Linked DNA regions of Homo sapiens. The protein of the gene in region 2 purifies or fractionates together with the protein of the main gene of each other region. This does not show direct contact. Each region holds a gene or a part of one and is shown on either strand. Other genes may lie near its edges.

Evidence for each region.
Region 1: the proteins of NMUR2 (region 2) and SLC12A7 purify together in Homo sapiens (affinity purification with mass spectrometry; 2 studies listed by BioGRID and IntAct, with this or other methods). This does not show direct contact.

What each region holds. Positions count from the first base shown.
Region 1 is NC_000005.10:1,102,064-1,106,050, reverse strand, and holds part of SLC12A7 (solute carrier family 12 member 7), read left to right. Parts: intron 1-421; exon of another isoform or gene 422-493; coding exon of another isoform or gene 494-608; intron 609-1,340; exon of another isoform or gene 1,341-2,137; coding exon of another isoform or gene 2,138-2,219; intron 2,220-3,987. UniProt on the Homo sapiens protein: Mediates electroneutral potassium-chloride cotransport when activated by cell swelling. May mediate K(+) uptake into Deiters' cells in the cochlea and contribute to K(+) recycling in the inner ear.
Region 2 is NC_000005.10:152,401,464-152,407,563, forward strand, and holds the start of NMUR2 (neuromedin-U receptor 2), read right to left. Parts: upstream 3,817-6,100; 5' UTR 3,651-3,816; coding exon 2,925-3,650; intron 1-2,924. UniProt on the Homo sapiens protein: Receptor for the neuromedin-U and neuromedin-S neuropeptides.

The DNA of each region.
Region 1 (3,987 bases), about 150 Mb from region 2:
AGCTGAGTGTTTCTGAGGGTGGATCCCAGAGTCATTTTGTGACGGCCGTGTGGTGGGTGGGGCAGGAGTCCCTGGGTGCTGGGGAGTGTGAGGCCCGCCAGGGCCTTGAGGGGTAGACCTCCCCCTCCCACTGTGGGGCATGGGAACCCCGTGGAGCCCAGTGGGGCTGGGCGTGGACGGCATTCAGGAGTGGACCAGCTGGTCTTCAGGGCAGTGGGCTGGGCTGGGGGTGTCTGGGGCCTGGTGAGCAGCTGGCTGGGGGCCCTCCTGGTAACTGACATGGGGGGCTGGTCTCCTTTGGCCTTCCTTCTCAGATGCTGGGGAAGTGCTGCCCAGGGACAAGGGCAGAGCACAAAGGGTTAATACCTTTCCTTTATGAAGAAAGGGGAAACTCCCTTTTGGGGGCAGAGGCCTGTTCTGTGCAGATAAACCTCTGGCTTCAGCGCAGCAGCCTGAACGATGAGCTCCTGAACGATGAGCTGCCTGGCTGGCCATGCTGTCCAGGCCCTGCCTCTTCCCCTGTTTGTGGCCGCTGACTCCCCAAGGGTCCTGGAGCCTCTGGCCGGGAGTGCCGGGGGGCAGGCCCACGGCAGGGTCCCCTTTGGCTGGTGGGTGACTGCAGGACCTCATCCCTGTGGGGAGGGTCCTTTTGGCTGGTGGGCGACTGCAGGACCTCATCCCTGCAGGGAGGGTCCCCTTTGGCTGGTGGGTGACTGCAGGACCTCATCCCTGCGGGGAGGGTCCTTTTGACTGGTGGGTGACTGCAGGACCTAACCCCTGCGGGGAGGGTTCCCTTTGGCTGGTGGGTGACTGCAGGACCTCATCCCTGCGGGGAGGGTCCCCTTTGGCTGGTGGGTGACTGCAGGACCTCATCCCTGCGGGGAGGGTCCTTTTGACTGGTGGGTGACTGCAGGACCTCATCCCTGCGGGGAGGGTCCCCTTTGGCTGGTGGGTGACTGCAGGACCTCATCCCTGCGGGGAGGCTCCTCTTTGGCTGGTGGGTGACTGCAGGACCTCATTCCTTCGGGGAGGGTCCTTTTGACTGGTGGGTGACTGCAGGACCTCACCCCTGCGGGGAGGGTCCCTTTTGGCTGGTGGGTGACTGCAGGACCTCACCCCTGCGGGGAGGGGCGTGTGCTGCCGTTGCAGGGGTCTCGGGGTCCGAGTGGTGCTTGCGGCCCTGGGCTGTGACGTGGGCCCCCATCCTGCCAGCCCGTGCCTGTTTCCGCTCTCCCCTTGGGCGGTGTCTTTTTGAGGAAACAGTTGTGGGGAGGAGAGTGCTGCTTCTGAATCACGTGTGGACCTGGGGTGGTTTGTTTCCTGCGTTCTGGGGTTTTCTTGGGCAGCACCCCACACGCACCCCACACGCACCCCCCGGTGGGCCTCGGCTCTGTGGGGAGTGGTCCTGGGGTCCGGGATGAGAGTGGGCCCCGCCCAGGCCTGTGTTGACCCCTGGAGTCAGATTGCCATCCACTGTAGTGGTTACAGTGGCTCTGGGAAGTTTGGGGGCTGGGACCTGAGCCCAAGGCTGGCCATGGATAGCCGCACGCAGCATGCCCGTGTGCTTGGTTGGCATGCCTGGTTTGTGTGTCTGCCATGGCCTGGAGCTGTCCTCATGGTGGGGTAGCCCCGCTGGCCCTCCCAGCGTTCCTGTCCATTTAAGTCCCGTGCACAGGGGATGTCCACCTTGCAGACGTGCAGCCGGGAGGAGGTTGTTAAAGTGATCCTTGAACATTTGCTCTGTGCCTCAGTTTCCCTTGGCAGGAGCCAGCCTGTCACGAGGGTGGCGGTGGCTGTGACCTCTCATCTCCTTGGCTCTGTCTGCAGACCTCTGGCGCCAGCGGGTCGGGCCTGGGCTTTCAGGGAGGCTCAGAGACGCCCTGGGCAGTCACTGGGGAGGGATTGAGTGGAGTGGAAATCGGAGGAGGGAAGTGCGCCAGGCCAGGCCCCTCCTGGGTCCCCTCCATGCCGCCAAGGGTCCCCGACCGCAGCCCAGAGGCAGCCTGTAACAGGAGCCGCCCTGGGAGGGCCTGGCAGGTGCGCTGGGGGCCCTGCCTCTCCCGCCTTCCTTCATCTCTGCTCCTGCAGGCTGCCTGGGCCCCGAGTCTCTGGAACTAGGGGACCCCACGGCCCCTCCATGGCTCAGACGTCACTCTGGCTGCTGAGGGAGGAGGCTGGACCAGGACCAGCAAACAGCCACGTGACAGAGGGTTCGGGAAGTGAGTTCACCCGAGGCCACCTTCCCGCGAGCAGGCGTGTCCTTTAGATGGAAGGGCTGTAGTCCCAGTGCATGCCTGTGTCCTGGGCACCCCGCCCCGTGGGTCGTGCAGTCTGGGGGCTGTAGCCCCTGGGACTTTGTGCAGATGTGTGTGCTGCAGGTATGTGTGTGTGTACACGTGTATGTGCGGGTGTTGGTGTGTGTATGTGACTGCGGGTATGGGTATGCACATGTGAGGACAGGTGCGTGTGCAGGTTTGCGAGGTGAGTGTTGTGTGTATGAATGAGGGGGGAAGCGTGTGAGTATGGGTATGGAGAGTGTCTTCCGTGTGAGCAAGTTTGCGTGTGCACGTGGAAGTGCCTGTCTGTGCATGTGTACACATGCATGTCTCTGTGCATGTGAGTGTATATTTTCTGTGGCGTGTGTTCATGTGTGTCTGGCCATAGCTTGCCAGGACCTTCCAGCCAGGCTTCCTTGCTTCCAGTGCCTCTGACGGTGAGCTGGGATCTCCCGGCGCTCTCCTGGTTTACAGGATACTGGCGGTGGTGTCTGCACAGACTGTTGGGATGAGGTCACTTCGGGAATGGGTGATGAAGGGCCTGTTTTTCCCTCAGAAGGCAGCGCTGCTTTAGCCAGAAACTTGTGCTGGAAGCCTGAGAGCTTGCCTGAAGCCCCCCGTGTCCCAGCCTGAACACTGGGCCGTTCTCATCCTGTGCCCCTTGAGAGCCTCAGTTTCTAGATTTTAGGGGCCCACACAGCACAAACTGTGAGGGGCAGAGGGAGGGCAAGGGCCAGGGGTCGTCAGCTGGCGTTCGGATCCTGGAACCTAAACACACTTTATTTCAGTGCCCGGCACCTTCACAGGGAGCCCAGCCTCCAGGCAGTGGGGTTGGGAGTGTTCCTGGGTCCTCGCGCCTTCACAGGGAACTCAGCCTCCAGGCAGTGGGGTTGGGTGGGGGGTGCTCCTGGGTCCATTCAGTCTCGGGCTGTCCCCAGAGGCCACGTGAGCTGATGCCACTGGGTCACCAGGTGGGACTCATTCTGCTGTGAGTCCCCTGTGGCTCCAGGGGAGGGTGGCCTGCTGGACCCAGGGGACACACAGAGCCAGGCCTGAGAACCTCCTCGAGTGCAGGGAGCCGGGAAGCCTGGACTTGCTTGTCCCCTGCCCCAGGCCCGGCGCCTCTCTGTGTGCACAGGTCCGGTGCCACCCGCCACTGCTCTGCAGGGCTGGGTAGCTGGACGGACCACCCACGCTGGAGGGCAGGAAGGGGCGGAGGCTGTCGGACCTGGCTTCAGCTTCACAGCCCCTCCTGCCTGTCAGCTGCTTCCGGCTGAGGCTGAGTCTAAGAGGACGTTCCTAGAGCCCTTTGCGGAGAATGGCTGTAAAATCCCAAAACGCGGGAGGAAGAGGGGGAGGGATGAGCCACTGAGAAAGGGAGGAGGTTGTGCCTGGAGATAGGGAGGCTGATGGAGGCATTGTGATCTCAGAGGGGATTAGGGCCGATTAGGGAGGTGAGCCAGCTTCTCCCTGCAGAAACTACCCATGAACGCACTTCCCAGGCCTGGATCGGGATGGGTCAGGGATCTGACACACACACTCTCACTGCCTCTCTGGCTGGAGGGGCTGCCCCTCCTCTGGCCGGGACACTCGTGTGTCTGGTCTTTGCCCTTCCACCTGCAGCCGCCTCCTTCCCTCTCGGGGTGGGGACACAGCCTGGTTGGACAAGCCCAGGAGGCTGTTCCCCAAGGGCCCAGCCCATCAGGATCTG
Region 2 (6,100 bases):
GGGACTTAGTTTCAGAATACCAGATTATAATATAGGTTTTGTGTAAATATCTCTATAATCTTAACACAATCTATTTACTTAAAAAAATTAGTGCAACCCTGTGTTGGCATGGTTGAATTCTGCTGCAATTCATACATCCATCCTCATCACCTCAATCATGAATGCAGCATGCAGGAGATGTAAGAACTAAATCAGACTGTCACCAGAACTTCCTCCCACATGTGGAGGGACTTGCCCTAGAATTGTCTATTTTCTATCTCTATAATGTTCAAAGCCTGGAGAACAGCTCAGTGGTGGCTGTGTCCTGGAATGATGCAGCGTGACTGAATGCCGAGCTGTGAGCACAGATATGGGTTTCCTCCTTCTTCTCTGGTCCTGTGATTTCATCAGTCTTGGGCTTGCTGCCTTCTGAAAGCAGTGGGTCCCAGAGTCAATCATACCTTCAAACTATCCAACAGAGTCACTCACTTAATCATTAGGATTGCTTGGGTCTCCTTGAGATGATATTTCCAAGTCTTTGTTTTAAAGGTAGAGAAGCTAAAGCCCAGCAATGAAGGAAGTAATTTGGCCTCATTCATTCACTGAGCTTACAGTCTAGTTGGGGAGAAAACAATTAATTAAGGAATCCATAAGTATGGAAATATAAATTGTAATGAAGGAAAATCACGGAGAGCCATGAGTACCTACAACAGGAAACAGGGATGCTCAGGGAATCTGGGAGAGCTTCCCTGAGGAAGCGTGTTGAAGTATGACACAGAGAATAAATGAGGGTTAGAAAGGCAAAAGGGGGAGTGGTGGCAGACAGTAGGAACATTTCAGGCTACAGGTATAGTGTACATAAAGGCCCTGCGATCAGTGACACAGAATAGGGCCTACTTTTCCTGAGTTTCAGTATAGAGATTTTTAAATTCTTCTAGAAGTGACTTTGTAAGCGTTAGTTTCTTTCCTGGTGTCCTCTGGTACCCTGGATAACAGCTCATCCTTCCTGAAAACAGGCTGTCAAAAGTTGCATTACATACACAAAGCAAACCAGGGTGGTTTTTAAACTTTTGTCTGAGCTGTCACTTACCTCCTGATACAAGGTAGCCATGGACTTTTGATAATAAAACACAATGAAACTGATTGTAACAGATTGGAAGAGGAACTGTGCATTTCCTACTCAAAGTTAAATATTTTTCCCAAATTGACCCAAAATAGGTGACTGTTTGGCATTGGATGAGGTAATATTAAGTGGGTGGGTATTTCTCATAAGACTTTCTTTGGAGTTGTATAGAAGTCTTTTCCCCGCAGTGAGATGTGCAGGACGTTCTTAAGACATGGCTGTGAGCTAGTGCGGGGTGGGACATGTCTCTGGGAATACAGGTGCTAGCCCTCCAGGAGGGGACTGGCACAGCTCTCTGCCTAATTAGATTTACTCTTGTGCCCAGATGTCCGTGACACTTAGAATTTGTTCTTCCTACTTAGACCTCGCTATTCACCTTAGGGACAATAGGTATTCAAAAGGACTACCATTGGGCACTCGCTTCTGACAATCGGCTTCTCAGAGATGGACTGAAATAGGAGTATATTAGTTGTCACATAAAGTGTGATGTCAGAGCCATCTCAAAGCAAATGATGTGAATGTGATATCTGTTTGTCCTGTCATTTAAAACTCACATTACTTCAGCTCACAGGTGTTTTTTTTTCTTTTTTTAAAGGAATAATAGACTGTTAGAGCTACAGGGGACATAGATAGGATCTGATGTGACCTTTTCATTTTATACACGGGAAAACTAATTCCAGGAGAATGATGTGGCTTGCCTAAAGGCATATTATATGTCAGCTGTAGATCTGGGAGTCTAAATGGTCTCGTAACTGTTTACTACACAAGCTATAATACCTCCCTTAAGTGGGTGTAAAATTGTCATTGTGAAGAACTTTTCTCTTCATGAATTTGGGTGCAGAATATACCAGAGAGGAATTATATAGACTAATTCCTACCCTTATTAAAAATAGTTTCTCTCAGCTAATTTAGACACCCCCCTTCTGAAAAAGAAATCAGTTTACCACCATAAACATAGGAAAAGAACCTCTAATTATATATGTTGCAAAATAAGTGATATCTTTTTCTTAATTTCAGATAAGCTCTTATTCACATTTTTTCACTCTATCTCATGTGCTGTTTACTTCCTTATCTCTCAATCTGCACCTGCTCAAAAGAAGCTCAAGTTATCTCAGTCATGTCATTAATATATATGATTATATATTATATATAACTATATATTATATATATGACTATATATTATATATGTAACTATACATATAATATATATAGTTTTATTTTGTTTTGTTTCAACCTCATTTTAATGAAAGGGTCGGAGCAACCACAGTAAATGTCTGATTTTAAAACTGAATACCTATCTTGGACTACAAAATAGGCAGGGATAGTTTGTGTTATACTCAGACCAAGTTGGTGTACAGGAAAATCTCAATGCAGGCAGTGGCCAGGGGCTGGAAAGTGACAACAGGATGTGGAGAAGTCTCTCAAAGTGTGGCCACCTCACCCCAGATCACCTGATGTGCTTATTTAAAATGAGGCTCCACCTCAGACCTTCTGAATCCCATTTTCCTGGGGGTGAGGTATGCATATTGCTCCCAAAGTAAGTTTTCTGCATGATTCTTAGGAACATTTAGATACGAGAACCCCAAGAATAGAGGGAAGAAAAATAGAAGACGAGCTAAAGGAAATGATAAATAGTTGTGGTTACCATTCATCTCATTTGAGGCAAGTCCTTTTAAGTCTCAATTTCCCATCTGAGCTCATTCTATTTTCCCTCTGTTCCCTTCCATTTCTGAATTTCCCCAATTCTAAGTTTTTCTCTGAACTTTGAGCCTGTGAAAAAAGAAGGGATGCTGCCTCAGGCCACCCCAGCCTAGATACTCACTCTGAGTGCCATGAGGTAGTAGAGGACACTGATGACAGTCATGGGGAGGAGGTAGAATAGGAAGGAGGTGACCTGGATGATGAAATTGTAGATCCACATGGGCTTGATGACCGTACAGGTGGCCGAACCTGGGACCAGGGACCCATTGGGGAAGTAGTGGAACTTGATGCCATGGATGCTGGTGTTGGGCAGGGAGAAGAGCACGGAGAAGCCCCAGACGATGCCGAGGATCCTGAGGGCCCGGCGCCGGGTGCTCTGCAGTTTGGCGCGGAACGGGTGTAGGATGGCCACGTAGCGCTCCACGCTGACGGTGGTGATGCTGAGGATGGAGGCGAAGCACACGGTCTCAAAGAGGGCCGTCTTGAAGTAGCAGCCCACGGGCCCGAACAAGAAAGGGTAGTTGCGCCACATCTCATAGACCTCCAGGGGCATTCCAAGGAGCAGGACCAGGAGGTCAGAGACCGCCAGGCTGAAGAGGTAGTAGTTGGTGGGCGTCTTCATAGCCTGGTGCTGCAGAATCACCAGGCACACCAGGACATTGCCAATGACCCCCACCACAAAAATTGGCACATACACCACAGACACGGGGAGGAAGAAGTGGCTGCGCCGAGGTCCGCAGAGGAAGGCCAGATACTCCTCGGTGCTGTTCAGGTGTTTCTGGAATGGATCTTCTAGTTTCTGCTGGTAGATCCAGGAAGCATTCTGAAGTTTTTCCATCCCTGACATTAAAATCCAAGGCCTGAGCCTCCCCTGGTACGAGGCTCTGTTTCAAGCTGAGCCAGGAAAAAAAAAAAAAAAAGAAAAAAGGAAAACAAAAAAGAGAAAGCAGTCACGAAAGTCACAGGCTTCGTAAGGAAGGCTGGGAGAGAGTGAGTGTTTCACCCTCCAGGTTAGGCTGCCTGGACCGCCGATCCCTTTTGAAGAGCCCCGGAGACACAAGCCCCTCCCCTTGACAGGCTGAGGGCCAATGAGAGTGTGTTAGGCTGCACTGGAGGAGAGGGGTGCTGGCTTCGAGTCAGGAAGCAGGGGAGGAGGCAGAGACCTCTCCCTGAATGGGAAGGAGCTGGGAAGGCAGAGCTGACACAAAAGAAGCCACTCGAACTTCATGGATGGGCACTTTGAGCAATGCAGGTTGCAAAGTTGTGGGAATCTGGGTAGACATAGAAATTAAAGTTGCAGGGCCATGGGCAAAAGAATACCAATCTCCACTAACCCTTGTCAGCCGTACAGCATGATGAAAATAGGAGATCAATAGATTTCTCAAGTTATCTTGTTCCACTGGAAATTCAGGGTTCTCTGGGGATTAATGTGATAACATGATTAATGTGACTTTTTGGTTTTAACTGCATCAACGATAGAATCCGAAGCCTGAAAGGGCGCATGCACAGTGCCTAGCCCTGACTGCTAACTGACTCTTCAGTCTCAGCAGAGCTTTGCTGTAAGCAAAAGGCAAATGGACTTCAGAATTAGGAACACTCATAGAAATTTAGGAAAGTTGGCACAGTTACCCAAACTCTTAGAGGCTTATTTCCTTATCTGCATCATTAATTCGATTGCGTTCCACAATAACTTCTTGAGGATTCACTATTTGCCAGGGAATGTTCTAAGCTTTGTAGAAACACTAGTGTACAAGCAAGACAAGGTCTCTGCCCTAGTGGAGCTTTTCTTGCAGTAGGGAATTCTGAAAACACACAAGCAAATGAATAAATTAATAATATAATTTCAGATAGTAATTGATAAATAATTATTTATCAAGGATGGTGAAAGAAAACTTATCTCAGGAGATGTCACTTTAGCTGAGGTCTGAATGATGAAGTCAGTCATGAAAGAGCTAAGGGAAGTGTATTACTCAGCAAAAGTAATAGCAAGTGCAAAGGTCCTGAGGCAGAAACAAGCTGGATAGGTTTTAAAAATATCAGGAAGACCAGAATAACTGGAATTTAATAAGTGGTCAGCAAAGTATGAATGCTTAGATTGAAGTGGCTGGCAGGTACAGGTTCATGTAAACTCTTATAGGCCATGGAAGAGAGTTTAGCTCTGATTCAAATGGCAGGGAGAAGTCTTTAAAAGATTTTGCACTGGAGAATTAACGAGGGAGAAATTTTAACAGAAGGTAGGTAAGAGGCTAGTAAGACATAGTAGTGGCTTGGATTCTATGAGCAGTGGAGTTGAGAGATTTCTTTGGATTTAGGAATATTTTTGCAGGAGATAATACCTTTTATGGTCATTGAGAAGACTAAATTAAATTATATATAACGAAGCAACTTATACTTAAGAGATGCTCACTAAATGTTAATTTTTTCCCTTTATTTGTTAAATCAGATTATGACGTTAAAAATTAGAGAGGGAAAGTGACTTGTCCAAGAATAAGTCATCTCTCAAGTTAAGATAGTTTACGCTGCTGTAACAAATGATTGACATATCTTGGTGGTTTTAAACAATACAGATTTATTTCTCTTGTACTTCAAATGTATTGAGGGTCTGTCTCATGCTATGCTCACTCATAAACCTAGGCTGATGCAGTGGTCACTCTCTGGAATTTTGATTATCATTGTGATAGAGGAAAAGAGAGCTCTGGATGGTCTTAAGTAGGTAATTATAGGCTCTAGCCCAAAAGTAAGTAACTCATTGCCAGTTTTTCTCACAGCTCATTGACCAAGGTTAATCATATGTACCCATTCGACTACAGCAGGGTCAGGAAGTGCTGTCTTAGCATGTGCACAGAAGATGGAAAAGTAGGAAAAATTGATCAATAACATTAATAATAATTACAGACATGTAATAGGTATTGCAGAGCCAGAATTAGGGCCCTCTAGTTAAAGGCAAGTTTTGATGTTAAAATCACTATTTACAAACTTTAACGTATTTTTCTAATGAAATAGGAAAAGTTTAATGAGAATATCTCATTTAGATGTAAGGATCGTTATAAGGGTGCACAGTGGCAGACTATAAACTTAGCGCTGAGGAAGATGGAAAATATTTCTTTCTTTAACAAAAATATTTTTCCATAAGTTACTGGGGTACAGGTGGTATTTGGTTACACAAGTAAGTTCTTTAGTAGAGATTTGTGAGAACCTGGTGCACCCATCACCCAAGCAGTATACACTGCACCATATTTGTTGTCTTTTATCCCTCACCTGCCTCCCTCTCTTCCCCTAAAGTCCCCAAAGTCCATT